Linked DNA regions of Homo sapiens. The protein of the gene in region 1 purifies or fractionates together with the protein of each later gene. This does not show direct contact. Each region holds a gene or a part of one and is shown in the gene's direction. Other genes may lie near its edges. The genes, in order: AJUBA, PTPN21, GAN, PPP2R3A, RPA2, P3H1 and CREB3L2.

Region 1 (4,498 bases):
CAAGTCTGGGCTCAAAAGCCTGTCAACCCAGGCTTCTATGACCTAGCCCCTCCCTAACTCTGCAGGCACAGCCAGGCCTTCCAGCCTGAGCTAGGAGTGTGGGGTCCTGAGTCTTTTTTTTTTTTTTTTTTTTGAGACAGAGTCTCGCTCTGACAAAGTGGAATGATCTCGGCTCACTGCAACCTCCGCCTCCCAGGTTCAAGTGATTCTAGTGCCTCAGCCTCCCAAGTAGCTAGGACTACAGGCATGCGCCACCATGCCTGGCTAATTTTTGTATGTTTAGTAGATAAAAGGTTTTGCCATGTTGGCCAGGCTGGTCTCGAATTCCTGGCCTCAAGTGATCCTCCTGCCTCAGCCTCCCAAAGTGCTAGATTATAGGCGTGAGCCACCATGCCCAGCCTGGGGTCCTGAGTCGTCTTCTTTTTTTTTTTTTTGAGATGGAGTCTCACTCTGTTGCCCAGGCTGGAGTCCAGTGGTGCGATCTCGGCTTACTGCAAGCTCCGCCTCCTGGTTCACGCCATTCTCCTGCCTAGCTGGGACTACAGGCGCCCGCCACATGCCCGGCTAATTTTTTGGTGTGTTTTTAGTAGAGACGGGGTTTCACTGTGTTAGCCAGTATGGTCTCGATCTCCTGACCTTGTGATCCGCCCACCTCGGCCTCCCAAAGTGCTGGGATTACAGGCGTAAGCCGCCGCGCCCGGCCAGTCCTGAGTCTTAATCCCCTTTCTGCTACTGGTTAGAATCACTTGGGACTCAGTTTTCTTTTCTGTAAAAACAAAAGATAGGATTAAATCAGTGATTCTCAATCATGGTAGCCTAGCAGATCAGCTGGGAAGAACTAAAAAACAAAACAAAACAAAAAACAGTGTTTGGATCCCATCACCACAGATTGTGATAATAGGCCTGGAGGAGGGCCAAAGCATTGATGTTTTTTAAAAGCTGCCTAGGTGATCCTGATATGCAGCCAGAGTGAAACACTGCTGGCCTGAATGCTCTCTCAGGCACTTTTCAGGGTCTCCGCCTCCATTTTACGACTTCTTCACCGACATTACATAGCATTGTTCTGGGAGTATAGCAGCGGGTTGGATGAGGTTAATGGGAGTAATAAGGAGCATAATGGGCAGCTGGAGAGCTGGGACTGGAGGGAGACTGATTCTCTTGCTACCCCATGAGCCAGATCCTACAAGCAATGGGGAAGTCCTATCATCCAGGCTGTTTCCGATGCATTGTTTGCAACAAGTGCCTGGATGGCATCCCCTTCACAGTGGACTTCTCCAACCAAGTATACTGTGTCACCGACTACCACAAGTGAGTCTGCCCCTTGGGATGCAGTGTGGAACTGGGTCCAGGGATTCCCCAGCCTCAGCTCATCTCTTCCCTCTCTCTTTCAGAAATTATGCTCCTAAGTGTGCAGCCTGTGGCCAACCCATCCTCCCCTCTGAGGTCAGTATGTCTGGGTTCTCCTTCAGGGCAGCCAGTGCCACTGCCTTTGGGGAGGGGATAGGGACATGCTGCCTGGCCTCCTGCCAGAAGTGGTAGTGCCAAGGAATGTACTCTGTGAAGATTCCCGTGTGACTCTGCCTCTTGGGGTCACCACCCTGACCCTAATATCCGGGCCTGGACATGTCTGAAAGCCTAACTGGGCCCAGGCTCCATCTCTTCTATCCCAGTCCAGAGGAGGAGACTTTCTTTGAGGTCGAGGTCACCAGACTGCAGATGTAGGGGCTGGAAAAAGGTGGGAAGAATCCTCAGCACTGGTAGGAAGGGGTCAGAAATGATTTAAGCTGAGTGTAGGGGATGTGCCTATGGAGAGAAACCAAAAGCCAGTGAGGACCAGATCTTATTGGATCCCCTTGTTCCCAGCCTAGCCTACTTTATTTAGGCCTCCTGTCCCCTTCCCTTCCCTTTGCTTCCTGCACAACTGAGAGACGCAGGTAAGGCCAGGGCTGTTGTACAGAGGGAGTGTGCTCCATGGGTGCAGCCCAGTGAAGGAGATGAGAGTTCTGGTAGGATTTGCAGAAGCATCTTAAAACTACAGGTGATTGCAGAGAGACTCTGGGGGCATTTGTATGATCTTCCCATGGGGTGGGAAGGGTTGTATATGAGGGAAAGGTGGAGGTGAGGCAACATGCTGCTCTCATCTCCATGGGGGTCTGCATGTTTCAGGGCTGTGAGGACATCGTGAGGGTGATATCCATGGACCGGGATTATCACTTTGAGTGCTACCACTGTGAGGTGAGTGTTGGGGTTCAGCGGTGCTGGAGAAGAAGTGGAAATGGGGAGAGGGGAGGAGTCAAGTCCTGCAACAACCAGACATCTATGGGAGAGGTGTAGGGCATGGGAAACCAGAAAGATATTGTGACCTATCTTCAGTCTCTTTTTTGTCCTCCAGCCACTCTCTCTGGTCCAAGTAGCTTAGTCCTTTCTGAATCTGACTCTCCCAGAGTCAGGACTTTCTAAGACTAGGGACTCTGGTCAAACTTCTTGAAAGACAGGCTTGTGTCATTATTTCTGCTGCAGCAGTGACACCTGGTGTCCAGCTGAGGTATTAGTATTTTCTCAGATTGCTCTTCCATCCCTTCCATCCTTCCCTTCCCACCCCATCCCTTTCTTCCAGTTATTAGGAGTCAGGTGTTGAGCAGGGCAGACTCCTAAGATACCCTCAGTGTCCAAGGTGCCTAGGCTGAGGTGAACTAGGTGCCTTCTTCCCTAGGACTGCCGGATGCAGCTGAGTGATGAGGAAGGCTGCTGCTGTTTCCCTCTGGATGGGCACTTGCTCTGCCATGGTTGCCACATGCAGCGGCTCAATGCCCGACAACCCCCTGCCAACTATATCTGAGCTGCAATCACTGCTGCTGCTGTCACCCTGCAGACAAACTGCTGTGGCCAGTGGGCCCCTCTGAGGCCAGCCAAGGCAAAGAATGCACTCTGCAGGCCTGGCAGAAGAGTCCTCTGGGGAGGACCCCAAGGGCCGGAGACCCAAAGATCATGATATTCCAAATGGATTGTGGAAGAGAAACCTTATATTTACCAGGGTGGGGGCGACTGGCCTTTTTCCCATGTGTGCAGTCTGAGCTTAGGCACACACAGGAGGGTTCCAGGACTTTCTGAACATCTGATTCTGTATCTTCAGTATATATATTTTGTTTGTTTTAGAGATGGGATCTCACCATGTTGCCCAGGCTAGTCTTGAACTCCTGGGCTCGAATGATCCTCCCACCTTGGCCTCCCAAAGTGCTGGGATTATAGGCGTAAGCCACTGTGTCTGGCCTAGTGTATGATTATGCATGAGTCACGCAATGTTCTGGTCCTGGATTCCAGGAGTAGAGGACCTAGCTTTAAATCAATTAGTTTCAGCTAAACTGACTAGAACCAAATCAAAGTGTAATTCTCCCTCCAGCTCCCCCAAACCCCAGAGTTTTGGGGTTGTGGTTGATGCAGTGTGGGATGTCCCTGAGAGGTAGCAAGTCTAGGGTGGTGAGTTCCTGCTAGGCAACCAAATTTAAGCTCCTCACTTTTTGTGACACATGGTGTCAGATATGGGGTCCCGCACCTATATCTGGATGAAGAGGTAGAAACTCTGGACCTCATTAATGAGTTATTTCTTGGCCTTCTTCTAAGGACTAGGAGAGCTCCTTATCTGTCTGAGAATGGGGACCAGCTCTGAGTGGGGTTGCTGCCTGTATTCCCTGTTTCTCAGGAACTTACATGGGTCTGGGGAGGCTAGGTAGGTGATTGTACGTGGTTGCTCTTCTCCTTGGCTGGGGGAGGTAATGAGCAGATCTCTGTGGGTGTGGAGCTTGTTGGGGGGATGTCTAGGAAGCTTCAGCTTAGCCACATTCCCAAGTTTAGGTGCACTGAGCCATATAGCCCAGTGTATGCATGTGTGGGTGTGTTCATGCACACACACACTCTCTCTCTTGTCTCTCTGTCTCTCTCTCACTCTTTCTTACTCTCTTCTCAGGTCACTTGTACACTTGGTTTCCTAGTAGAAGCTCACTTGCCACCTCTCAGAGGGGTCCCGGATTGCATCCATCACAATCCCAAAACTAGAGTTGGGGGGAACTGGAGGGAGCAAAACACTGATTTGATACTAGTCAGTTTGCTTGAAACTAGTTCACCTAAAGCTAGATCTCTTAAAACCAATTTACTGAAAACTTGTTTGCTTAAAGTTAATGACTTAATGACTAATTTGCCAAAAGCTCAATTCCTATTTTGGTGTGTTTATATCCATTTAGGTGTCCTATTCTTTTTTGTCATGCTTTGGATATTTCAAGGATTTATATCTATTCATCCAAGAGTACTTCTGAGCTATTATCAGCAACATAAATTTATCAAATTTGCAGCACTTTGTAAATGATGAGATTGCTTCCTACCTTTATGGATGTCTTTTTCTATGTTATCTACCATTCAAAAACTTTTTTAAAAAGTTTAAAGTTTCTAGCAATAAATACAATTGGTACAGACATTTTGTGTATCATTTTTTTGTTTCTTAATC
Region 2 (4,498 bases), about 66 Mb from region 1:
TGGTCTCAAATTCCTAGGCTCAAGCGATCCTCCCGCGATAGGCATGTGCCACCATGTCCGGCTCTTGACTTCGTTCTTTCAACATTCATTGAGTAAAATTCATTGACTATATTCTTACAGGCCAGATCGAGGTTCTAGAAACATACTGCCTGAACTCAGTTTGAGTTCTAGTTTCCTCACCATCTGCTTCTGTTACCTTGGGCAAGTTATGTGATATCTCTGAGCCCCAGTTCTCCATCTGAACCATGGGGATGACTGTGACACCTAATTCTCAGAGTAGCATAAGGTTGTAAGCTCTGCTAACTAGTCTATTAGAGTACCGATTGGGAGGTTTGCCCAGGAAACCCCTAATCTAGTTGGTAGGAAGTTATGGAGTACTCATGTATCCATATAATGTCTTAAATTTAAAATGTTATGCAAGGCCTGTGAAGAAAGGTCTCTAATTAAACCTAGGACCCTCCCTACCTTTGGCTACCTGGTTCTTGGGTAAGGGAAAGTTAGAGAAACTGGTTATTCCACCTAAAAAGTCAGGAATAGATGAACTTTGCTCCTGGTGACCATCCAATCACTTATATGATCACTCAGTACTGAAGATGCGTAAGTGCCAAGCACATACATACTTGGAAGCTCACCCTAGTGTTGTTGCCAGTAAGAAAACAGGCATGATGCATGCTGTGATAAGGGAAGTAGAGGGTGTGCTATAGGCCAGAGGGAGGTGCAGCAAAGGGAAGGCTGCTCAGGGAATTTGATTCTGAGCTGTGACCTGAGGATGGGGCAAGGGAGTCCTATCAAGGGCTGGAGGAGTTCCAACAAAGAGAACTGCACAGGACCAAAGACGCAGAGGAAGCTGGTCTGCCTGAAGCCTGAAGTGCGTGGAGGAAAGGCCGACTGTAAGGGCCACACAATGAGGATTTTTTGTTAAAGGATTTAGATTTATCCTGAGGGTAGTGGGGAAGTTAATGAAGGGTGTAAACAGGTGTGGTACGATTGTTTCTGTGAAGAGTGAGCCCTTTGGAGAATGATTTGAGGGGAGTGGTTCAGGTACAGATGGTAGCCACCTGGAGTTGGATAGGGTTGGAGAGAGGTGGTTGGAATCTGGATCAGGACCTACCGAGTAATAGAGAAGGGTTAGCATGGGTCCTGGTTGATATTCAGGTTTTCAGTAGATGGTGGGGCTATAACAGAGAGGAAATGTGAAAGGAAGTGCAGATCTATTAGGGGCAAGGAGGAGCGTGTGGTGAGTTCAGTTTTAGAAATACTGAGTTTGAGGTGCCAGTTGGAGGTTTTGAATAGACAGATGGATCTGCTGATCTGGAGTTCAGGCATGAGATCCAGGTTAGAGGGAAGATATTGGGAAGTATCAGCCTAAGTGAGTTCATTAAAGCCAGAAGATGGTATGAGGCTCTCCAGGGGAGAAAAAGAGGACATCGCAGACCCCTCATGGTAGATTAGAGGAGGGGAAAGTGTTGGAAGGAAACTGAGATGAAACTGCCGAAGAAGAAGAAAGAAAACCAGAACAGCAGGCCTCAGTAACCAGTCCCTGCTTACTTGCATTTATTCTTTTTTAGGGATGAGGTCTCACTCCATCACCCAGGCTGGAGTACAGTGGCACCGTCATAGCTCAATGCATCCTCAAACACCTAGGCTCAAGTGATCCTTTTGCCTTAGCCTGCCAAGAGCTGGGACTACAGGTACACTCCACCACACCCAGCTAATTTTTTTTTTAACTTGTGTTTTTGAGATGGAGTCTTGCTATGTCGCCCAGGCTGGTCTGGGAGTTGTTTCCTCTAGTTATCTTCCTGCCTCAACTTTGTGAGTAGGTGGGATTACAGGCGTGTGCCACCTTGCCTGGCTTAGTGGCTTATATTCTATTTATTTATTTATTTATTTACTTTGGTTGCTTCGACTTTTTTTTTTTTTTTCCTATTATGGTTTCTTCTTCCTGTAATTTTCTTCCTCGTGCACCAGGTCTGTCTATAACGCCTAGAGAGTCAGCTTCTTGAGGAACTGTGGTTTATTTATTTTTATACCAGGTGTGGAATGTGTTCAGTAAATACAGGGAGAACTGAACCCACAGGCATTGCCTTCCTTCTGTTAATAAGTCCAGAGAAATTGCCATCCCTTGTTAGAAGTTATCAGTCTCAGGGAACAAGTAACTTTATATAGCTGTGGGTATATTTTGAGCCTGATTTTTAACAGAAGAGGAAACAGGCATGGTCCCTAGAAAATGTTTTGCCTGTGGAGAGTCTGTCCCACAATTTCCAACATAAATGTAACAGTCATGGGTAGAAAGTTTGTATAGCAAACTTTTTCTTTGAAAGCCCCAGAAGCTCTGCTCTGTAGCATATAAACAGATGGCTCAGGCATCAGGCCTAATCTTAACAAATGACTGTTCAGAAATAATCTGAGTGGGGTCACACCTGTTTCTAGTTTGTACATATAGTCTCTGTGTGATTCATACCAAGAAATATCAGTATGTTGGTTTCTTGCACTGTTCTCCCACCAAGCAAATCTGGAATTATCGCATATAGATTTGGGTGGAAAACTTTGCTACTGTCCAAATATAAATGGAGGGAAAAGTCCCTCTTGCTTAATTGAATACCATTTCACTTCTATAATGACAATTTTTTTTTTTTTTTTTTTTGAGATGGAGTTTCACTCTTTTGCCCAGGCTGGAGTACAATGGCGCGATCTCGGTTCACTGCAACCTCTGCCTCCCGGGTCCAAGCGATTCTCCTGCCTTAGCCTCCCCAGTAGCTGGGATTACAGGTGCCTACCACCATGCCCGGCTAATTTTTGTATTTTTGTATTTTTTTTTTTTTTAAGTAGAGATGGGGTTTTATCATGTTGGCCAGGCTGGTCTTGAACTCCTGACCTCAGGTGATCTGTCCACCTTGGCCTCCCAAAGTGCTGGGATTACAGGAGTGAGCCAACGTGCCCGGGCCTATAATGACAGTTACAAGGGCCGCACAATAGTATAACACTATACCCAGGGGTTTCAGCTATATCAGTAGTGTTTCTTACACTGGGTATATGGGTATTTTTTTTGTTTGTATTTTTAGCTGTCATATTTTTACAAGTGTCTAAGATATTTTGTATTAAATTAAAAGCAACGTGGTTAATATACATGTATCCAATGTAGTTAACTTAGGTTGCTAACTTTCTTTTAAATTCACCATATTTGAACTACAGAAAGTAACTTCTTTTTTTTTTTTTTTTTTTTTATTTGAGACAGAGTCTCGCTCTATCGCCCAGGCTGGAGTGCAGTGGCGCGATCTCGGCTCACTGCAACCTCCGTCTCCCAGGTTCATGCCATTCTCCTGTCTCAGTCTCCCAGGTTCATGCCATTCTTCTGTCTCAGCCTCCCAAGTAACTGGGACTATAGGCGCATGCCACCACGCCCGGCTAATTTTGTATTTTTAGTAGAGATGGGGTTTCACCGTGTTAGCCAGGATGGTCTCGATCTCCTGACCTCATGATCCGTCTGCCTCGGTCTCCCAAAGTGCTGGGATTACAGGCGTGAGCCAAAGTAACTTTTAAAAATGGGAAAATGAATTATTCCCTTAGGAAAATATTGCTGTTCGTTATAGCAGTAGTTTCTCAAAGCTGTTGAAATTCCCTGCCTATCATTCTTCTGAGTTTCAAAACATTTTTTCAAGAGAGGCTGTGAGTCCTTGTGGAATTTAAGGGGAGCTAGAAAATTTTCTCCAATTTTAAAAGCATATGCTGTAGAGGCTTGAAGGAGGTGGTGACACAAGTGGCCACCTGGGCATGGGCACTGCCTGGGGCATCACCTTGACGGAATCAGCACAATCCAGAGTGCAAGAGTCAGGCTCAAAAATCTCATGTCATGGGAAGACCTGATTTAATCTAGCTCGCTAAAAATGATGTGTAAAACCAGGACCCAAGTTTAGTAATTTATAAGCAGTAAGGAACTGCCAAGGGTCCCAGGTATGTGTGCCCTCTGCCTAGGCCAAGATTTTCCTATAGTTAGGGCACATGGGAACCAGAACAAACCAGAAGTTTCTTGGTGAACATGGAATCAGAAGAATGTTACCTTGAAAAAGTAGATATTTTCATAAGTCGGCCAGGCGCGGTGGCTCACGCGTGTAATCCCAGCACTTTGGGAGGCCGAGGTGGGCAGATCACCTGAGGTCAGGAGTTCAAGACCAGCCTGGCCTGGCCAACATGGTGAAACCCCATCTCTACTAAAAATACAAAAAAATTACCCATGCGTGATGGTGTATGCCTGTAGTCCCAACTACTTGGGAGGCTGAGACAGGAGAATCACTTGAATCCGAGAGACAGAGGTTGCAATGAGCCGAGACTGCGCCACTGTACTCCAGCCTGGGCGACAGAGTGAGACTCTGTCTCAAAAAAAAAGAAAAGAAAAGAAAAAGTACATATTTTTATAAGCAGAGAATTGCTGCCTCCAGGACCAGACAAATTCCTTTGAGTCAGGGCACCTTTTCCTCTGCGCGGTGCTTCAGTGGTGCTT
Region 3 (4,498 bases), on another chromosome or scaffold:
TTCTCTACCAGTTTGGGACTTACATTCTTGTTAATAGTCCTTTAGGAAGATTACCTTAGAAATTACAGCCTGTATTAAGTTAGCAAAGTCCAAAGTTAGTCAGTACCTGTGTTCTCTTCAGGAGAGTTTTTCTTCATTTTCCATTTTCCATACTCTTACAGTTTTAAAATGCATTATCACTAATAAATATGTACAGTAGATCCCCCTTATCAATGAGGGATGCATTCCAAGACCCCCGAGTGGTTGTCTGAGACCACAGATAGTGCTGAACCCTGTACATACTGTGTGTTTTTACTATACATCCATACCCATGATAAAGTTTAAGTTCAGCACAGTAAAAGATTAACGACAATAACTGATAATAAAACGACGATAACAATATACTGTAATAGTTATGTGAATGTGGTCTCTCTCAAAATATCTTACTTTACTGAACTCACCTATTTTCGGACTGCAGTTGACCATGGGTGATAAAACCACAGAAACCAAAACTTCAGATAAGGGGTAGCTACTATATACACAATATGTCTTTTTTTGATATATGTTGGATGGATGGATGGATGGATGGATGGATGGATGGATGGATGGATGGATGGATAGATGGATGGACAGACAGATAGGTAGATAGATGATTGATAGACAGGCAGGTAGGTAGGTAGATAGTGTTCATTTAGATTTGCCACTTTCTTCGTTCTTCCTTCTTAACTCCTCAGACTTTCCACCTAGGATCATCTCCCTTCTCTCTGAAGTTCATCCTTTTGAATTTCCTTTAATATGGGTCTTTTGGTGGACAACTCTCAGATTTGATTGCCTGCAAATGTCATTATTTTGTCTTCATTCGTAAAGGATATTTTTGCTGAGTATAGCATTTCAGCTTTGGTATTTATCATTTTTCAGCACATTGAAGTCATTCCACTGACTTCTGCCTTCCATTGTTGTGAAGTCAGTGGCAAGTCTAAAAAATCTCTTCTCTGGTGTGTATTTAAAATTTTCTTATTATTTTCCATCTTTTTGTCTCACTGTGCTGTTTTCTTGATTATTATCTTTTGATTTATCTTCTTTTCTCCTTAACTCTGATTAATCTGCTATTACATTTATCCATTGATTTTTTTTTTTTAATTTCTACAAATTCTTGTCTTTTTACAGGAGAATAACTTAATCCACCATTACCTTCAAATCCTCTCTTATTTCTATAGTTCCCTGTTACCTGGAGTTATCTTCCAGTTAATTTTTATTTTTTAAACATGATAAGCATTTGTTTAAATTATCTTTGTTTTTTAAATAAATTTTAGACTTTATTCTTCATCACCCAACTTGAAAAAAATCATCTTTCTGGTTACTATAATATTTGAAATCTTTGCAAGACTACTTCCTATGATCTGCTTCTGCTGGTCTTTTCTTAGAGTCTAATTTTTGGTATGTCTGATATCTGTGGCTGCATGCTGCTCATTTATTAAACATTATTTGTAGCAGCCGGGCGCAGTGGCTCACACCTATAATCCCAGCACTTTTGGAGGCTGAGGCGGGTGGATCATTTGAGGTCAGGAGTTTGAAATCAACTGGCCAACATGGTGAAACCCCATCTCTACTAAAAGTACAAAAAGTAGCTGGGTATGTGGTGGCATGTGCCTGTAATCCCAGATATTCAGGAGGGCGATGCAGGAGAATCGCTTGAACCCAGGAGGCAGAAGTTGCAGTGATCTGTGATTGCACCACTGCCCTCCAGCCTGGGCGACAGAGCAAGACTGTCTTTAAAAAACAAAAAAAATCAAAAAAAAATTATTTGTAGCAATAACTTTCTGCCTTAGATGTCCTGGGATGTTAGAATCTAAGGCTTAGATTAAGGTCCTTCTACAGAAGTTTTGCATTTGTTTCTGCCAGTTGACTGAAAACACTACTAATTTGGTATTAACTGTAAGTTAAGTTCAAGGCTCATGATTTCCCAGATAGCAAGGAGATTTAAATCTGAGTACGAATTCTGGTTGGCCTTCATCCTGACAGTGTAGAACTTTGGAGAGGATCTCCTGCCAGAAGCCACGTTTTCTGTGGACCTGGAGCTTAAACTTCTGTCTTTTTCATCCCCAGGACAAAAGGTTTAAATTTTCCTAGATTAGAAATGCCCTCAGTGTAAAATGGTTTTCATGCTTGATAACCTCTGTAGGTCCTAATTTTCCCTTCAGTTTTGCCTTGTTATCTTGTTGGCTTCTCCTCTTCTAAGAAGATTATTATTGTTGTTATTTTTGAAACAAGATCTCACTTCGTTGCCCAGGCTGGAGTACAATGGCATGATCACAGCCCACTTCAGCTTCACACTCCTGGGCTCAAGCGATCCTCCCATTTCAGCCTCCTGAGTAGTTGAGACTATAGACAAATACCACAATGCCCGGCTAATTTCATTATTTTTTGTAGAGATGAAGTCTTGCTGTGTTGCCTCCTATGAACCTCCTGGGCTCAAGCAGTCCTTGTAGCTTGGCTTCCAAAAGTGCTGAGCCACCACCACCCGGCTAAGATTATTTTTTAAATGTTTTATCCAGCAAATTGTTTTTTGCAGAAGAATAACCTAATACGCCATTACATGAAATCGGAAGTTCAGTTGCTCTTAGATCCTGTTTTGAATAGAAAGTGCACACGGATGCCTCAGATCTGGGTATTCCTGGGGTCTAGAATGAACAGATGTGCGCTGCGGTGCAAAAGTTGTATGAGAATCCCAGAGGCTGAGAGGGAACAGAAGAGATGAATTGAGATGGCCCAGAGTTGCCTGGTGACTGAGCGGGTGACGCCAGGCTTCCTTTTTCATTGTAGGGTGGTGGAAATCCCCTCAAAGACAGTAATGAGTAAAGCAAAATGGTCAAAGTGATGGTTTGGCTCCATCACCAAGGATCCAATGGGATGTGATAAAAGCCCTGAATCCAAAGAGAACATTGTTGTCATCAGAGAGTTTCTTCAGATGCTGTTTCTATATATGCTGTGGCGTTTATGGGTGTTGAAGACTCACATTTCATATTTGTGTTTCCTTTGATCTTTGCAGAAGGATTTTTGTTTGTATTCGGGGGCCAAGATGAAAATAAGCAGACTCTTAGCTCAGGAGAAAAGTATGATCCAGATGCAAATACATGGACAGCATTGCCACCTATGAACGAGGTAAAACACTAGTTGGTTGGTTTGTTTGATGTGTTTCTCTTTCCCCTTAGCGCTTCTGTTTGTTTTGTGTCTGAGTTCAGGGAAGAAACGGCAGCCTTGTCAAGCCACCTGCCTCATTCGCTCCAACCTCTCCTTCTAGTGCCCGGCTCTCCTCCCCTTCCTGGCCCTCACTCCTTCTGGCCTCCATGAGTTTCTGAAATCTTCCAGGAATGCCCTCACCCCAGCCTTCACATTTATCCTGCCCTGTGCAGATGCCAGCGTGGCCTGCCCCCTCCTCGCAGCACCTTCTCAGCGGGCCTCCCTCCTGCCTCTTAGCTTTCCTGTCCCCGTCTTCGTACGACGTCTCACCATCTCACGGACCAGGCATTTAAAGTTTTTCACATAAGCTCTTTGATGGCAGAGAATTACATGTGTTCTGGTCAGTATTTCATTTTCAGCACTAGAATCGTGCTTGGCACGTAGGGTTTACTACATAAATATTCATTGACAAACGGACATGAAACACCTAGGGCTTCTATGATCCCAAATAGCCTTGGCCTGACCCTGTCCTCCACAGCCCTTTCTGCCATAGTTTATACTAGCCTTTCCCACGTCAACTTGAAAACACTGCCCTTTGTTATGCAAAAATAATTGTATTGAACCAGAGGTAACAGTTCATTTTCTTGTTGTGAGCTATTATGGGTTAAAAAGTGAGGATTTTCTGATGAACTCACCATGTATTTCTTAAGTTTGTTTTGAGAAGTGGCTTTGGCCTCTCTGGCTGTTGTGCTGGAAGAGTGGGCTGTTAGGGAAGCCAGAAATCTTTAAGAAGCATTACCGGAGAAATGGTTTTGAACGTGGTACTTCCATGCTGGAACACTGGGAAAAAAGATTTCTCTAATTTTTAAAAATAGTTTCAACTTTTATTTTAGACTCGGGGATACATGTGCAGGTTTGTTATGTGTGTATATTGCATAATGCTGAGGTTTGCAGTAAGATTAATCCAGTCTCCCAGGTACCAAGCGTCGTACCCAATAGTTAGTGTTTCAGCCCTTGCTCCTCTCCCTGTCTCCTTGCTCTAGGAGTCCCCATTGTCTATTTTTGCCATCTTTATGTTTCTCTAATTTTTATTAAGTGTATGAATATCAGCTTTCAATATGATCATTGGCCTTGTGTGTTCAGGGATCGCTAATGTAATTTCAGGCAAGACATAACTTCGGAATTGTGGAGATAGATGGGATGCTGTACATTTTGGGAGGAGAGGATGGTGAAAAGGAGCTGATTTCCATGGAGTGTTACGATATTTATTCTAAAACCTGGACAAAGCAACCTGATTTGACCATGGTCAGAAAGGTGAGGACTGCATTTTGTGATAACT
Region 4 (4,498 bases), on another chromosome or scaffold:
AACAGGGCCGCTTTTGGGAACCCAGAAGCCAGGAACACGGAGAGTGATGACACAAAATGAAGCTAGGAAAATAGGCAAAGGCTGTCCACTAAGCAGTGGTTCTCAGTCCAACACTCTCATCAGAACCACCAGAACTTAAGACCGACGCCTGGGCCCTCCTCCAAGCAAATCAGAGCATTTTTGGTGGGTTCTGCTCCCTCCCCCAGCTACCATTTTCCCTGTCTTCCAAAGGAATAACCACTGATACTAGTTTTGTATATCATTGTAGACATTTTTTGTGGGCATTCAAGGAAATGCATATCTTTCCTCTTACTGTTTTACACAAATGGTAGCATACTGTACACTCTGTTTTCTTAAAAATGTCTTGGGAATCTTTCCACTTCAGTATATAGTTTCCTTATTTTTTTGAATGACTGTACAGTATTTCACTGTATGGATATACCATAGATTATTTAACCATTCCCCCACTGACAGACATTTAGATTGTTTCCAGTAATTTACCGTAAACAGTGCTACGAATATGCTGTTTCATATGTGAATAAATATATTTATAGGGTAAATTCCTAGAAATGGAATTGTTGGGTGAAATAAACACACAAACACATATATTTACATAAGTATATATTTATGTAATGCGTGTATATGTGTATATATTTGTAATTATTTGTGATTATAAAATATTCTGGTCATATTAGAATGCTTTGGAAGGAAACAAGATTGAGTGTGGGAGACAGCTGCCCCTAATTAAGGTTACTGTGGATAACATAGGAGAGAAAAGGTGGTGGCTGAGAGAAAAGAATGGTCGTATTGGAGATGGAGAGAAGTACATATATTCATGAGATATATTTAGGAGGCGTAATTGATAGGATTTGGTGGTTGATATGGTACAAGGGTTGAGAGGGAGAAATGAGATCCTAAGATGACTCCCAGGGTTCTAGCTTGCCCAACCAGTGAATGGTGGTGGTGTTACCTGAAGTAAAGAACATTTAAGGATAAATAGTTTTGAGATGAGTTTAAATCACAGTTTACATTGGGACTGCTGAGATTTTCAAGTGAGAGGTCACATAAGCATTTGACAATTCTAATTCAGAGCCAAGAGCAGAGGGCTAAACTGGAGGCACGAATTTTTAGGTGTAAATTAAAGGCTGTGGATGAAATTATCTAGGGCAGTGGTTGCAAAGCAGTAGCCTACAGCTGAATCTGACTCACAGATGTTTTGCCCATACAGTGGTTTTGTTATTGTTTAATTTTGAATTAGTTGCCAATATTTTAAAATCTGAAGATTTCTCATGAAAAATCCAGATTTGGGGTTTCTCTTTAAAAATGAGAAAATGTAGCACTACTGAGTTGGTTTTCCAATATGGCAGCAATAATTGGAGCTAAGTCACAGATGATCGCAGCTCTTCTATTTCACTACAGAGCCCACCACTCCCTAAAATTATGCCTGGCCCACTTTGCTCATTTATTTCTCTGACTGTAGGCTTTTGAGCATGTGATCCCTGGTCTGGGAAGAGAGCATAGAACAGTGTTCTCATCTTGGTTGCACATTGGAATCACTGAATGATTAAAAAATGCTAATGCTGTGGTCCACCTAAGAAATTTCTTTTTCTGTTTACTTGATCTGATTTGCTGCCTTGGACGAATCTGAGGTGATTCCACTTAGCTGTGGAAGTTGAGAACCACTGACAGAGATTAAGAAAAAAGGGCTCAGGCCCAGCATTTTGAAGTTTAGTAGAGGAGGATAGCCCAGGAAGAGAATGAGAAGTGGCCACAGAGGTACAGTGGAATGACGCCTTGCTCAGAATTAAAGTGTGCAAACTTAACTGAATGCGCTCTACCATGTTTTTTATTAAATGAGAGAGAGAAAAGTTTTATTTACTTGTATACAGGTGTGCGATATTTAACGGGCCATTTAAAGGATTTTCAAGAGTAATTTAAACAATATTTGGTTTTTGTCTTAGCTGTTTCCTTCACAATCTAATTCTAGTTTAAGATGCATCATAAAAGGTGAGAGAAGAATGTTTCAAATAGAGAGGTGTCATCAAGTAAAGATGTGGAACAAAAATGATCTGTTGAATTTAGCAAGATGGAGTCTTTGACCTCAGCAAGAACCATTTTAGATTGGAAGAGGCAGAAACCAAAATGAAGTGGGTAAAAAGTAAGGAAATGGGAGTGGCAAGTGTTGGAAATTCCTTTGAGAAGCTTGCCCAAAAAGAGGAAGTGGTGAGGGAGGATGAGGTGTCTTACATGCCTACAATGTAGGTGTTAGTCTGTTGGTTACTCAAACATTTCTCCTAACTTTTTAGGGATGTAGGTCAATGGTGTCTGATTACCCCTCTCCCACGTTCTTAGGGGTCTTGTTTTGGAGACTACTTTTTACTGAGAAGAAATTTTGCCAGGACTGTTGAAGGGGCTGACTCAGATGTTGGTGATTAGGCCACAAGTTTCTTTCTCAACTGGAAAGCTGTAGAGCTCCTAAAGGCCAGTGGTGATCTGGGCTCCAGTGACCCTGACATCATCCTCCCATTGAGCTGATGAACAAAGACTATATTGTTGGTATGCTGAAAATGGAATACTTGGCTATGTTAGGGAATGTGTATCTAACTGTGAGATTCCCAGGAATAGTTTTTGCAGCTGTATTTTTTCCAATTAACTTGATATTATAGCTTAATTTTCCAGTTGCATGCATGTAAAAACTCTCATACTTTGAAGTATTTATCATTGATGGTACCTGAGGGATATGGATGTAAGTTGGAGATGTAGGCCCTCATTGAGCTCAGAAAGAAGAAAGCACTGAGCAAACTGGTTTCCAAAAAGTTGTGTGAAGGCTTCTACCTCGAAGACTTGGTGTTAGAGTGACTATTTAGGATGGGTTGTAATGCAAATGGTCACAACCAGTTTGTCTTTTATCCATTTCTGCCACATTGGCAACCTTAACCTAGCAGAGAGGCTTTTAAGGTCAATTTTGTGCTTCATATTTCTAAGAGTTGTAGCCTGCCAACAGAACAGAAAATATAAGGGGTGGAAAATGCCAAGAATTATTGGTTAAGAATGGTTTTGATTAATTGAAGGCATAAACCTCATTGCTATACTCTTGAAAACAGGAATATCATCTTGTGAGGGACCAGACTTCATAGCTGTCATTGGTTTATCAGTTAGGTGGATGATGGTTAACTTCTGTATAAAGGATGACTTTGTGACATGAAAGCAGACCTTGGTCCAAGATGGTTTGTAATGTGAGTCCATTATAAGAAAATATCTTATTTAGAAACTTGTGTATGCTTGGACAGCTGTGGGAATTCCATCATCACAAATATGGTTAGGTACTATGCCTGGCTGGCAGTATATAGAGGCAAAAGTCCATTACCAAGGTGGTCCAGAGCTCCTTTGGTTTGTGGAGGAAACAGGATAGCTGAGTGGGGAGAGGACTTGGAGTCAGTTCCTGAGTATAGTTCCTGGATTTGTCAAGGGTGAACTGTGTGATTTTTTTTAATTGAGGTAAAATTAACCATTTTAAAGTGTACAAATCAGTTACTTCAGTATGTACATTCACAATGTTGTGCAGCCATCACCGCTAATTCTGGAACATTTTCATCACCCCAAAAGGAAACCCTGTACCCATTAAGCAGTCACTCGCCATTCCCCTTTACCCCTACCGTCTGGCACCCGCCAATTTGCTTTCTGTCTATATGGATTTGCCTGTTCTGAAGATTTCATATAAATGGAATCATACAATATGTAACCTTTTGTGCCTGGCTTCTTTCATTCAGCACAATGTATACGAGGTTCACTCAGGTTGTAGCATGTATCAGTACTTCATTCTTTCTTTGGCTGAATAATACTCCATTGTATGGATATACTACGTTTTGTTTATCAGTTGACATTTAGATTGTTTACACCTTTTGGCTCTTATAAATAGTATTGCTAAGAGCATTCTTCTACAAGTTTTTGTTTAAATACCTGTTTTCAATTCTTTTGTGCATGTATCTAGGAATAGAATTGCTGGATTATGAAATAATTCTATGTTTAAAAAGTTTTTGAGGAACTCCCAGACTGTTTTCCACAGATGCTGCACACTTTTACATTTTTTCCAGCAATTTTTGAGAATTCTAGTTTCTCCACCTCCTCGCCAGCACTTTTGTTTTCTGGTTATAGCCATCCTAGTGGGTGTGAAGTGGTGCCTCATTGTGATTTTTATTTGTATTTCCCTAATGACTACTGACGTTGAGCATCTTTTCATGTGTTGGCCATTTGTGTATCTTTGGAGAAATGTCTGTTCAAGTCTTTTATCAATTTTTTAATTGGATTGTCTTTTGGTTGTTGAGTTTAAGAGTTCTTTACATATGTAAATATGGATACAAATCAGGTTTATGATTTGCAAATATTTCCTGTCTTACTGTGTGCTGTTTTTTCACTTTCTTGTTAGTGTTCTTTGCACAGAAGTTTTTAATTCGTGTGAAGTTGAATTTGTTTTTTCTTTGATTGTGTATGCTTTTGG
Region 5 (4,274 bases), on another chromosome or scaffold:
AACAGTGTGGAGTATCCTATTATATAGAAATGTGTACTTTATGTTGGATATTTAGGTTGTTTTAAAATTTTTAATATTCTATACTATGATAAATCTAAATCTTAATGCATGTTCTTAATTACTTCCTTAAATTCCTAAAAGTAGAATTGCTTTGCCAATAAGTATATCCACCAGAAAATTGTGTGCCTGCCGGGCGTGGTGGCGGGCGCCTGTAATCCCAGCTACTGGGGAAGTTGAGGCAGGAGAATTACTCAAACCCTCCCTTGGGAGGCGGAGGTTGCAGCGAGCCAAGATCGTGCCACTGCACTCCAGCCTGGGTGACAGAGCGAGACTCCCTCTCAAAAAAAGAAAAAAGAAAATTGTGTGCCTAAGAGCTTGAACGAGAGTGTCACAATTGTTTGCTTTTTTATGATGTGCTACAGAACTTTGGAACTGATAATTACCTTTAGAGATATTTTTATTCTAATTCCTGGTTTTACAAAATAAGTTGTAAAAGGCAGGGCAAACTACTTAATGCCATTTTAGGATCCTTTAACTCTTCTACTTCGTAACTTTCTCTTTCTATACATAATATAGAAACGTTAAAGAGGCTTTTACCAGCATCACTAAAACTTTAATGACATGTTTGTATTTTATGTTAGGACACCAGCAGTGAAAACACTGTGGTTCCTCCAGAAACATATGTGAAAGTGGCAGGCCACCTGAGATCTTTTCAGGTAAAGTCAGAATAAAATAACAGTTAAAGTGTTTTTGCATGAAGCAGTTTCTAGATTCATGTCATGGCTTTTGGATAGTTAAAATACTTAAGTCTCCCTGTTTAATGGGAAGTTATTTCTTACTCTCTTCAAAAGGAAATAACTTTTCTTTTTTTTTTTTTTAACCTTAACATGAAATTAACAGAATGGTAAAGAAAGAACAGAATCTCCTTCTACAATTGCTATCTGTGGCGTTCATTAGTTGGAGAAAGGAGAACACTAGATTCGGAGTCAGGAGTCTAGATTTTGCTTGGTTATGCAATCTTGGGAAAATTATTAATGTCCCTTAGCTATTAGTTTTAGTTTTTTTTCTCCTCATGTTTGACCATATTTGGAATACCTCTGAGAGTATATAACATTTTTCTCATATTGGTGAAATATTAATATTATAACCAAGGAAAGAGCCACAGTGTTGACCTGAAATTAATGTATGTTCATATTTTATTCACATTTTTTTCCTTCATTTTAATAGAACAAAAAGAGCCTGGTAGCCTTTAAGATCATGCCCCTGGAGGATATGAATGAGTTCACCACACATATTCTGGAAGTGATCAATGCACACATGGTACTAAGCAAAGCCAACAGCCAGGTGAGTAGTCTCGCTTTCCTAGCTTTTTCTCTTCCCTGGAAGAACACAGGCTACTTTTGTGTTCCAGCTTTGATTTCCTTGATATTTTGAAGGCCGAGCCAGAGAAAGACATCACTAAGTCCTCAGAACACTTTCTCCATTAGCTTTGTCATTGTATTTTATTCCAGATGAAACACTCATGTTTCTCTCAGAATTAGGAGTTCCTCTGACTCCACTGGCCTGGACAGCTGAGGCCTGTGACAACCCTCAGGTGTAGACATGTAATTATAGGCTCTTAGCTCTTATATAGCTCTTAGCTCCAGGATTGTCAGTGCATACTCAGAGAGTAGTCCCCTTCAGGACAGCATTTTGCTGTCTTCCTTCCAACTTACTGGCTAAGTAGGAAAAATTATGTATTATTATTTTTTCCCTGAAATTATATTTCTTGGTTCATATTGAAATTTCTCCCTAGTATTTTCCATTGTGTGAATTCACTTTGACAAGTCCATCTAGGACCATGCAAAACTAGAGTTGACTGTAGTATTAGAAAGCCCTCAGGGCAAGGTGTGGTGGTTCATGGCCTGAAATCTCAGCACTTTGGGAGGCTGGTGTGGGGGCATCACTTGAGCCCAGTTCAAGACACCACGCTGGGCAACATAGGGAGACCCTGTCTCTACAAAAAAAATTAAAGAATTAGATGGGCTACTTGGAAGGCTGAGGTTGGGAGATCACTTAAGCCCAGGAGGTCAAGGCTGCATTGAGCTGTGATCGTGCCACTCACTGCAGCCTGGGCAACAGAGCAACCTTGTCTCAAAAAAAAATAAAGAAAAAGAAAAATATTTATTGCGCCTACTTTGATTTGATAGTCCCAATCATTCTAGTCGGCATTCGAGTATAGCAGTGAACACTATATACTTACATTCTTGGGAGAAACAAGTAATAAACAAAAATATATGTATAATTTTAGGTAGTTATATAGGTGCTCTGAAGTAAATAAAACAGGAGAAGAGGCTGATGGAGGGAACAAGAATGGTACAATTTTAGATGAGGAACATTCTAAACCAGAGGGACTAGGATGTGCAAGAGCCAGGAGTGTGGAGTAAGCATGACATCTCTGAAACCAGCAAGGCCAGTGTCTGGAGTGAAGTGAATGACAGGGGAGAGGGAGAGGGTTGTAGGCAAGGAGGCAGGGCCCAGATTATATGGGGCTTTGGAGGCCATGGTAAGGATTACCTTTACTCAAATTTTTAAAATTTTGTTTATTTGGGTTTTTTGTTTTTGTTTTTGTTTTTTTTGAGACAGAGTCTCGCTCTTTCGCCCAGGCTGGAGTGCAGTGGTGCGATCTCGGCTCACTGCAAGCTCCGCCTCCCGGGTTCACGCCATTCTCCTGCCTCAGCCTCCCGAGTAGCTGGGACCACAGGCGCCCACCACCACACCCGGCTGCCACCACACCCGGCTAATTTTTTGTATTTTTAGTAGAGAAGGGGTTTCACCGTGTTAGCCAGGATGATCTCGATCTCCTGACCTCGTGATCTGCCCGTCTCAGCCTCCTTTCAAAGTGCTGGGATTACAGGCATGAGCCACCACGCTTGGCCCTTTTTTTCGAGACAGTGTCTCACTCTGTCACTCAGGCTGGAGTGCAATGGCGTGATCTCGGCTCACTGCAGCCTCCGCCTCTCGGGTTCAAGCAATTCTCCTGCCTCAGCCTCGCCAGTATCTGGGATTACAGGTACGCACCACCATACCCAGCTAATTTTTGTATTTTTAATACAGGCGGGGTTTCACCATGTTGGCATCCGGTTAGCAGTCCGGCTGGCAATGAGGATTTGTGGCCTAGGAGGCGGTCTGGGATGAGATCCTGGGGACACTGTCAGCTTTTTGGGAGACAGATAGAAGAGGCTAATGAGGGATACTGAGAAGGTTCAGTTTGAGAGGCAGATGGAGAACCAGAAGAATGTGGTGTCAAGAAGCCCAGGGAGGAATACATTTCAAGAGGAGTGTGGTCAGCAGTGTCTGCTTCCGAGAGGTCAAGTATTAGGAGGACTGAAAGAGACTTTTGGATAATTGGTTGAAAAGTCTTTGGTGACTTTGGTGAAAACAGTTTCAGAGGTGTACTGGGGGACAACCCAAATATGGTGGGCTGAGGAGTGACTGGGGAGAAAGGAAATGAAAATAGTGATTGCAGAGCATTTTAAGAATTTGGTGGTTAAAAAAAAAGAAAGAAAGAGAGGACGATAGGGACTGTGTCTCCTTTTCTCTGCCTGTGGTGCTTCATGCCTATTGACACTCAGTGAATGCTTGAATGATTGGGCTCCATGGATACCAAAATAGCAGACTCTGGGTAATTTTCTTCTTGCTGCTACTCTTCTCTGGTTCGTCTGACATCACAAACAAAAGGAGCCAAGAGTATCTTTCTCTTTTTGATATTTATGTGCTTCGGGGAGTTACTTTATCTTCCTGTGAAATACTCATTAGATAATAGCTGTCCACTCCAATGTAAGCAGTGTTATAAACTGGGAAACTGTTTATAAATTGTTTTTTGTAAGCTGCTTAACGAGCTATTTTAAGTAGTAAAGACTGTTTAACTTGATGGATTTTCTAATATTGCTAACTTATTTCTTAATTCAGCCCTCAGCAGGGAGAGCACCTATCAGCAATCCAGGAATGAGTGAAGCAGGGAACTTTGGTGGGAATAGCTTCATGCCAGCAAATGGCCTCACTGTGGCCCAAAACCAGGTAACCTCCACCAGAGTGGCTTCAGAAATACAAAACACAGATAGTCTTAAATTTTGTTACTTCCTTAATGAGCTACGACTGTTTAAGTACCTGGTTCATTTCTTTTCTATAAAGGGACTCAGGTTTGCAAAGGGGAGGCTGATCCAAAATAATTGCTAAAATCTTTCTGATTTGAATCTTCAGGTGTTGAATTTGATTAAGGCTTGTCCAAGACC
Region 6 (4,498 bases), on another chromosome or scaffold:
TGGCACCATGCCTGGCTAATTTTTTTGTATTTTTAGTAGAGATAGGGTTTCACCATGTTGGCCAGGCTGGTCTCAAACTCCTGACCTTGTGATCCACCCGCCCTGGCCTCCCAAAGTGCTGAGATTATAGGCATAAGCCACTGTGCCCTGCCGTAAAGCCTTTCTTAACCTCCCAGATGATTGGAGTCCCCTCCTTTCTTTTGAACTTCTTAGGGCATTTATGGTCTGTCTTATGCTAGTTATTTGCATAATTGTTAGAGAACAGGTACTGTCTTCTAGGATTCATCTCTCACCCTATCTGGCACAGTTCCTGGTACACACTGAGGCCTCAGTTATCAAGTGGAGTTGAACTGAGTCTCTAGTATTAGTATGTCCCTAGCACAGAGAAACACCATGAGAACTGTAAGAGAGAAATGTTGACCTTTGCCCTATAGTTGCTTAAATTAACAGTGGTTAATTAAACAAGATTAGCGTATGAAAAGAATTTGTCCAGCATTCCTTTGTTTTCAGACCACTTTCACTTTGTTATTTCTCTTGATTCTTATAACTGAGAGGTGAGTCATGCAGATTGCAAGATCCTTATTTTAAATGAATAATGATGATGATACCATGGTAGCCAAACTTTTGAGGACTTACCATATGCCAAATATTGTACTAAGCTTTTAACTTGCCTTCCTTGTTCTTAACATTATACTGGCATCAAACATATAAGGTAGATGCTGTTTGACAGATGAGAACATTTTAATTAATTAAAATTAACCTCAGGGAGGTTAAGTAACTTGCCAAGGTCACACAGCTAATCAATGGAGGATCTAGGAGTCAAAGTCAGTTCTTCCTCGTTCCCGAGCTCATGTTTTAGGATTGTGTTTCTGATGTTTCCTCAAGAGTGTGTCATGGCCCAAAAGCCAGCAGCTATTTGGTCATGGAGCTGGGACTGGGAATCTCATCTTTCAGCTCTATGTTCTGTCCTCTGGACTATTCTACCTTTGAAAATGACCTAGCGGGAGATTTTGCTGGTGAAAAGGAAACAGCTGGAATTTCTATTTGTGACGAGGAGGCAATATCCAATGGAGAGTCTTTGGTCTAGCTGCTGCTAGATTTAGCTAGAGTTTTGTCATTGCTTTGCAGGTGGCCCCCTGCTGTATGAAGGCATCAGTCTCACCATGAACTCCAAACTCCTGAATGGTTCCCAGCGGGTGGTGATGGACGGCGTAATCTCTGACCACGAGTGTCAGGAGCTGCAGAGACTGACCAATGTAAGGGAAGCCCAGTGACTGCACCTTCCCCCAAGGGTCCAGCATCCCCCCACCAAGTGCCCCTTGGGTGGTAGCCTTCGCCTTCCTCTTCCTGGCCACAGTTGACCACCTCTTCTCAAGCCCTCAGCTGCCCTGGCTAACATCACCTTGTGTTTTGGGCCTTGTAGGTGGCAGCAACCTCAGGAGATGGCTACCGGGGTCAGACCTCCCCACATACTCCCAATGAAAAGTTCTATGGTGTCACTGTCTTCAAAGCCCTCAAGGTAAGATCAACACTGGGCATTCTAGAGTGTGGAGAAAGGGGTGGGGAAGGGGGAAGCTCAGGCTTTGAGGAAGAGTTGGGGCTGGTGGCAGGAAAGGTGAAGAGGGTCCACCTGCCAACATTCTTGTTGCCAGGAAGCGAGGATGAGTTATGTTGCGTGAGGTTCACTTTTGAATCCTGTTAGACCGAGTGTAATCAAAACAAAGTGAGCAGGATAAGACTGTTCGCCAAAGCTATGAGAATGCTTTCTTTAGAAAGGCTGATTCTAGAGGGCTGTGCTTCTGTGCAGGATGCACAGTGTGCTCATAAAGAGAGATAAGAAGGACAGGAGGAAGAGGAATATAGTAGGGGTATTGGGCGTGGGCAGCAGAGGCTGCAGCTTCAGTGGGGGTGTGGGGACGTGGGATGGGCCTGGTACTCATTGTCTCTGGCCCCTAAAGAGGGGCGTTGTGTTAGTCCGTTTTCACACTGCTGATAAAGACGTACCCGAGACTGGGCAATTTACAAAAGAAAGAGGTTTACTTGGACTTACAGTTCCATGTGGCTGGGGAAGCCTCACAATCATGGTGGAAGGCAAAGAGGAGCAAGTCACATCTTACATGGATGGCAGCAGGCAAAGAGAGAACTTCTGCAGGCAAACTCCCATTTTTTTATTTTTTATTTTTTATTATTTTATTTATTTATTTATTTATTTATTTATTTTTTTTTTATTGATCATTCTTGGGTGTTTCTCGCAGAGGGGGATTTGGCAGGGTCACAGGACAATAGTGGAGGGAAGGTCAGCAGATAAACAAGTGAACAAAGGTCTCTGGTTTTCCTAGGCAGAGGACCCTGCGGCCTTCCGCAGTGTTTGTGTCCCTGGGTACTTAAGATTAGGGAGTGGTGATGACTCTTAACGAGCATGCTGCCTTCAAGCATCTGTTTAACAAAGCACATCTTGCACCGCCCTTAATCCATTTAACCCTGAGTGGACACAGCACATGTTTCAGAGAGCACAGGGTTGGGGATAAGGTCACAGATCAACAGGATCCCAAGGCAGAAGAATTTTTCTTAGTACAGAACAAAATGAAAAGTCTCCCATGTCTACTTCTATCCACACAGACCCCGCAACCATCCGATTTCTCAATTTTTTCCCCACCCTTCCCGCCTTTCTATTCCACAAAACCGCCATCGTCATCATGGCCCATCCCCAATGAGCCGCTGGGCACACCTCCCAGACGGGGTCGTGGCTGGGCAGAGGGGCTCCTCACTTCCCAGTAGGGGCGGCCGGGCAGAAGCGCCCCTCACCTCCCGGATGGGGCGGCTGGCCGGGCGGGGGGCTGACCCCCCCACCACCCTCCCGGACGGGGCGGCTGGCCAGGCAGAGGGGCTCCTCACTTCCCAGTAGGGGCAGCCGGGCAGAGGCGCCCCTCACCTCCTGGATAGGGCGGCTGGCCGGGCAGGGGGCTGACCCCCCCACCTCCCTCCCGGACGGGGCGGCTGGCCGGGCAGAGGGGTCCTCACTTCCCAGTAGGGGCGGCCGGGCAGAGGCGCCCCTCACCTCCCGGACAGGGCGGCCGGCCGGGCGGGGGGCTGACCCCCCCACCTCCCTCCCGGACGGGGCGGCTGGCCGACCACCCCCCCCGGCCTCCCTCCCGGACGGGGTGGCTGGCCGGGCTGAGGGGCTCCTCACTTCCCAGTAGGGGCGGCCGGGCAGAGGCGCCCCTCACCTCCCGGACGCAAACTCCCATTTTTTTAAAGCCACCAGATCTCGTGAGACTTATTCAGTATTATGAGAACAGCACGGGAAAGATCCACCCCCATTATTCAGTCATCTCCCACCAGGTCCCTTCCACAACACATGGGAATTATGGGAACTACAAGATAAGATTTGGGTAGGGACACAGAGCCAAACCATATCAGTCGTTGAGGGCAGCTGACCATCTGTCTCCTTGGCAGCTGGGGCAAGAAGGCAAAGTTCCTCTGCAGAGTGCCCACCTGTACTACAACGTGACGGAGAAGGTGCGGCGCATCATGGAGTCCTACTTCCGCCTGGATACGCCCCTCTACTTTTCCTACTCTCATCTGGTGTGCCGCACTGCCATCGAAGGTGGGCCTCATTACCCCTGCAGCACCCGCCCCCGCATGCTGTACCTCAGCTCTGTGCTGGATGCTGAAGACACAGAGAGAACAGGATGCGGTCCCTTTTCTTCAGTTGGGGAACCAATGTAAATACATGGGTGGCATCCCAGTGTGATGCATGCCACAGTAGCATGGAGGAAGTTATAGTCAACCTACCTGGGGATCAAGAAGGCTTCCCAGAGGGAAATGGGGTGCAGCCAGAAAGGGGGCCACCCGTCACTTGTCACACAACGCACTTTAATGGGGAAGCTGGTGCTAAACCATTCATAGAGGACCTGCCTCCGGGTTAGGGTTTCATACATAGCTGAGCAGCTCCCTCGCTGCCATCTGTTGAAAGACAGCCCTCAACAGAAGGGCTTGTTAAAAGCAAAAATAATAACAACAACAACAACAACAAAAAGAAGGCTTCCCAGAGGAAGCAATGGCAGTTTTGCAGGATGAATACGATTACGGAGTACTCCGGGTGGTGGGATGGTGTTTGCACAGGAGTGGAGGCATTGTGCAGCCTGGTAGTCAGGGGAACTAAGAAAGGTGCCAAATCCTGGAGAGCTACATTCAAGGGAATTTTTATCCTTTAGCTCAACCATAGCTATGTGGCAGATTCTCTTTTACTAATTGTTAAATACCAAATTTGTGAGAGAGCTTCGTGATTTACAAGTGAGAGTGGCCTGGAGGTTATTCCTCATTCCCTCGCCCACCCACATTCCCTTTTGCATGTCCAAGAAGGGGAGAGGTTCAGCTAGTGCTGCAAGGATCCTATGTGGCCCAGAGCCGGCTCTGTCATACTGGAGCCTCCAGCAGGCCCCTGGCAGTGATGGCCATTGGTACGTGGCACAGATCAGAGGGCTTTCCTCTACCT
Region 7 (3,802 bases), on another chromosome or scaffold:
TAACCCAGACCCCCCACCGTGGTTCTTTTCACAGCCCTCGACTTTGCACTTAAAAAGGGATATTGTAAATGAAAGGCTGCAGTGCCAGTTTTAAGAAAGAATTTCTGTGAAGTGTGAGGACTCTGGAGTCTAGCTCACATAAAGAGAGTGTTATATAAAAATCCGACAGCTGAACTAGGTTGCTCTTTTTTGGCAGGGAGTGGGGATGAGATTTGACACCAATATGGGCAAAATTAGATAACCTTTTGGTTAATATAAATGATTTTGATTTGGAGGCCTAATTTGTAGATTGTGAAAGCAGCTTTTAGTTTAACTTATTCACAGACCCCTTATAATTACCATGTTTTTTTTTTTCTTCCTAAATCTCTTGGTTCAGCTTGTGAATCTTACGTGCCCGTAAAGTTGGGATGTTGAATTGGCTCTTCTTTGTTCTGGCAGTGAGTCAAGTGTCCAGCATTTTTTCATAAGTGTTTTTTAAAATTGTTCTCCAGCATTTTATGGCTCCTCCCTCCCATGTCCTCAGACCCAGCAAAAGCGTAGAGGCAGAATTAGAGGCCTCTCCAGGCCAGCTCCTCTGCCCACATGTCATACAAGGTGTGAATTTGAGCACAGTCCAGAAATGGAGACATCCCACCCCCAGTTGAATAATGGCCCATTCATGCCAACCTTGCCAACACGGAGAGGGCAGAGATGCACTAGAAGACCTTCATCCTCCCCTTCCTCTGCCCCAAGTCACTACAGTTGGTTCTATTGAAGCCAGTCTTTAAGAAACCTGGGTTAAAGACACCAGCACTTCTGCTTGCTGGGCTGGCTGGACCTGTGAAGCCATGGGCAGGTAGTGCCCTCTTGAGAGTCATTTTATTTGGCCACCTTCAGGTGAGACTATCCATAGACACATGCTAGGATAGGCCCCGCTGGGAGGGCAGTTACAGGAGAGAGTAGGTGGTGGTGACGTGAGGGCTGTGAAGGATCCAGAGACAAGACTTAGATGTTTCGTTCATTCACTCACTCATTCAGTTACTCCTAAGACTTTTCAGTTTCATAAGGAAGAGTGTTGCCTGAGGCCCTAGGGAATATTGGGGAATAGAAGGGATTGAGGAAACATTAATAATAGTTATTCAAAAGACCCAAATGCTTATACTTCTCTCTCCCTTCTTCTCTCTCTGACACACACACACACACACACACACACACACACACACACGTGCACATTCCTCCCTTACATGCTCATTTGTGCCTTAAATGTGCCTTATAGGTAAATCCAGGATGACTGAGGAATCCCTCGTCACTGGGAGATTTTGTATATATTCTTTTATTATTAGATTGAGTTGGGTGTGGGGAAAAATTTTTTTCTGAAGGCTCAAAAGTGGTTTCCTAAAAGTGAGCCACTATCAGATTTGCACATCAGGAGAAAAGAAATAGGGTTACGTCCATTAGGAAAATCCCAGTTTGCAGGAGTGCAATCACATCAAAAAAACAACCAGCCAGGATTAAAGGTATTATAAATCCTCATAGCGGAACATTTCTCAGGGCAAAGGAACCTGGCTCATTTGAAGATTAATGTTCCATGCCTTTGTGGTCAAAGGGTCAGCACTTAACACAGGAAAAAACTAGGTGTTGTTTTGTTTTGTTATTTTGGACAACATAAAATTCAGGAATGTTTTATTTAGCCTTGGTTTCTAGAAGGAAGGGAAATAATATTTCTTGAGCATTTACTAGGGTGTTGCGTGCTGTGCTAAGTAAATTTTAAGTCTTTCAGTTTTATAGATACGGAAAACAAGGGTGACTCTTTACCACAGGATGAATAAAGAACTAAGTAATATGGGAAATGCAGCAATTTCTGGACTAGCTGAGCCGATTCCTTCCTGTGAGCACACTGTAAGCTTTCAAGTTCTCTGGGCAGGAATTACAGCACCTGTCCCCTGCAATGGCCCTGCTGTGTGATGCTCATCGCTTCCCTTCGTGCTGGAGCAGTCCCCCAGGTGTCCATCTCCTATCTTTTTGTTCCAATCTTCTGTGAGTTCCAGCTAGCAGGCTTTACATCTGGGGAAAGGAAAACCAGGGGTTTTAGCTCTGTTCTCTGCTCCCATCCTTCGCTCACCAGCTGAGTGAGAACATGAACTTTTTGCACCATGTACCCATGGCTTACACTACTTAGAAAATCACCTTTTCAGATAAAACAGTTTATGAGTTCATAGAGAACACCAGCACTCTTTGACAAAACTGTGAGTGACCCTTTTTAAACAATGCTGAGCAGGCCCTGAGCTATAATCAACGGTGAGCTTTAATGTCTATGCTGACAGTTAGGTTTTGCTCTCTTTTGTAACAGGTTACGTAGACCAGCAGTGTTTAAATCTAAATACGTTGTGAGTCTGTTATCTGTCCTATCGCGTTTTTTAAATGACTTTTTATTCTTTATCATAGCTAAGTAAATACCAAAAAAAAAAAAAAGCTTTGTAGGACACTTGTACTTAGTTTGGGAAAAAAAAATAAATTGAAATTGTTATGCTTTTGTATTTCCATTTCTTGCAAATAAATATTTTTTCTTAAATAGTAAGATGTTGCCCAGTCTTTATAATCTTGGTACTAATTTGAAAAGCATGTTGTTTTTTTATGAACATGGGTTTGTGTATGTGTGCCGAACCGTTCTTTCCTGGATATCTACTTGGCCTGAAAGAAGAGCCTCAAACCAGCAATTGGTATGTTATATAGGACTGAATCCAAGCCTTAGTTGGAGGAATATTGAGAATGTAATTGTTTTTTCAGGCAGCCACGGGAAGAAAAACAGTATCCTCTAGAGACTTATGCAGCATGACTGTTATTTTTATTGTCTCCTCTAACTATTCCCTAACTAGATTTCAACTGTCTGTGGATTTGATTTTGCTTTCCCCATCTCTGGTTGCTTGAGAAAGATCCTTTGGACTTGAGCCAGAAAGGAATGATCCTTCTTCCTACGAACAGTTGCAGAGGATGTCTAACAGATTCATGCTCCAGAAATTCTGATGAAATGGTTGATAAAGGTCAGTGCACTCAAGCAGAGTAATCTTCGTTCCATTACAATGTCTGAATCCAAATGTAGCTTTCTTCACTCAGAGAGTGGGGGCTTCGTTTAGTCTCAGACTGACTTGGGATGTGAGAGACTAAGGCCAGGGACTGTGCTTACTTGGAAAAAAAAAACAAAACATGGGATTTTTTTGTTTGTTTGTTTTGTGTTTTTTTTTCCTTAGCAGCATGCTCAACCCTGCCCTGGCCTTGAGGGTACATTAATCTGCTCTATCTTGTCCTCTTCAGAGCACCTTGACCTTTTGTTGTTACACAAGGGGGCCTTTCCCTTCAGAGGCTTTCATTATCATGCCCCACTCTTTCTTTTGTGGGGAGCCTATTTCTGAAGCTCCTCCACCCCCCAATATGCTGATATCTTTTCAGTGGTGTGTGGAGAGGGCAAATACTCACTGATTTGAGAATGTTCTGTATTAATCATGCCTTTCCATTTTCTGAATTCCTAATGCTTTGACATCTAGGGCCTTGCCGACCCTGGAGGGACCACCCGTGCGAGGGCTAGCCCATTCCTAGCTTAGGAGCATGCCTTTCATATACAAACCGACCTGGAGCCCATAGCCCAGCCACCTCCTCTGTGGCCTTTCATACTCTGGGCTACTCTCCCCCTGCCCTAGGTACCCTAGGGCCAGGTACCAGACAACTAGAGACAGTCTCTAACCCCGCAGCCTACTGAAATTATTCAAACTAGCCAATCCAAAACCTGTGTACCCTGTGTTGCCTGTTTTTTCCTGCATAAACCACA

The links.
Region 2: the proteins of AJUBA (region 1) and PTPN21 purify together in Homo sapiens (affinity purification with mass spectrometry; 2 studies listed by BioGRID and IntAct, with this or other methods). This does not show direct contact.
Region 3: the proteins of AJUBA (region 1) and GAN purify together in Homo sapiens (affinity purification with mass spectrometry; one large-scale study listed by BioGRID and IntAct). This does not show direct contact.
Region 4: the proteins of AJUBA (region 1) and PPP2R3A purify together in Homo sapiens (co-immunoprecipitation; 2 studies listed by BioGRID and IntAct, with this or other methods). This does not show direct contact.
Region 5: the proteins of AJUBA (region 1) and RPA2 purify together in Homo sapiens (affinity purification with western blotting; one study listed by BioGRID). This does not show direct contact.
Region 6: the proteins of AJUBA (region 1) and P3H1 purify together in Homo sapiens (affinity purification with mass spectrometry; one large-scale study listed by BioGRID and IntAct). This does not show direct contact.
Region 7: the proteins of AJUBA (region 1) and CREB3L2 purify together in Homo sapiens (co-immunoprecipitation; one large-scale study listed by IntAct). This does not show direct contact.

The regions. Positions count from the first base shown.
Region 1 is NC_000014.9:22,971,784-22,976,281, reverse strand, and holds part of AJUBA (LIM domain-containing protein ajuba), read left to right. Parts: intron 1-1,177; coding exon 1,178-1,308; intron 1,309-1,391; coding exon 1,392-1,443; intron 1,444-2,166; coding exon 2,167-2,235; intron 2,236-2,713; coding exon 2,714-2,839; 3' UTR 2,840-4,498.
Region 2 is NC_000014.9:88,544,722-88,549,219, reverse strand, and holds part of PTPN21 (tyrosine-protein phosphatase non-receptor type 21), read left to right. Parts: intron 1-4,498.
Region 3 is NC_000016.10:81,359,471-81,363,968, forward strand, and holds part of GAN (gigaxonin), read left to right. Parts: intron 1-3,028; coding exon 3,029-3,141; intron 3,142-4,323; coding exon 4,324-4,473; intron 4,474-4,498. UniProt on the Homo sapiens protein: Probable cytoskeletal component that directly or indirectly plays an important role in neurofilament architecture.
Region 4 is NC_000003.12:135,968,490-135,972,987, forward strand, and holds part of PPP2R3A (serine/threonine-protein phosphatase 2A regulatory subunit B'' subunit alpha), read left to right. Parts: intron 1-4,498. UniProt on the Homo sapiens protein: The B regulatory subunit might modulate substrate selectivity and catalytic activity, and might also direct the localization of the catalytic enzyme to a particular subcellular compartment.
Region 5 is NC_000001.11:27,894,075-27,898,348, reverse strand, and holds part of RPA2 (replication protein A 32 kDa subunit), read left to right. Parts: intron 1-641; coding exon 642-716; intron 717-1,227; coding exon 1,228-1,344; intron 1,345-3,951; coding exon 3,952-4,059; intron 4,060-4,242; coding exon 4,243-4,274. UniProt on the Homo sapiens protein: As part of the heterotrimeric replication protein A complex (RPA/RP-A), binds and stabilizes single-stranded DNA intermediates that form during DNA replication or upon DNA stress.
Region 6 is NC_000001.11:42,749,295-42,753,792, reverse strand, and holds part of P3H1 (prolyl 3-hydroxylase 1 isoform 1 precursor), read left to right. Parts: intron 1-1,128; coding exon 1,129-1,256; intron 1,257-1,423; coding exon 1,424-1,519; intron 1,520-3,456; coding exon 3,457-3,607; intron 3,608-4,498. UniProt on the Homo sapiens protein: Basement membrane-associated chondroitin sulfate proteoglycan (CSPG). Has prolyl 3-hydroxylase activity catalyzing the post-translational formation of 3-hydroxyproline in -Xaa-Pro-Gly- sequences in collagens, especially types IV and V.
Region 7 is NC_000007.14:137,873,734-137,877,535, reverse strand, and holds the end of CREB3L2 (cyclic AMP-responsive element-binding protein 3-like protein 2), read left to right. Parts: 3' UTR 1-2,557; downstream 2,558-3,802. UniProt on the Homo sapiens protein: Transcription factor involved in unfolded protein response (UPR).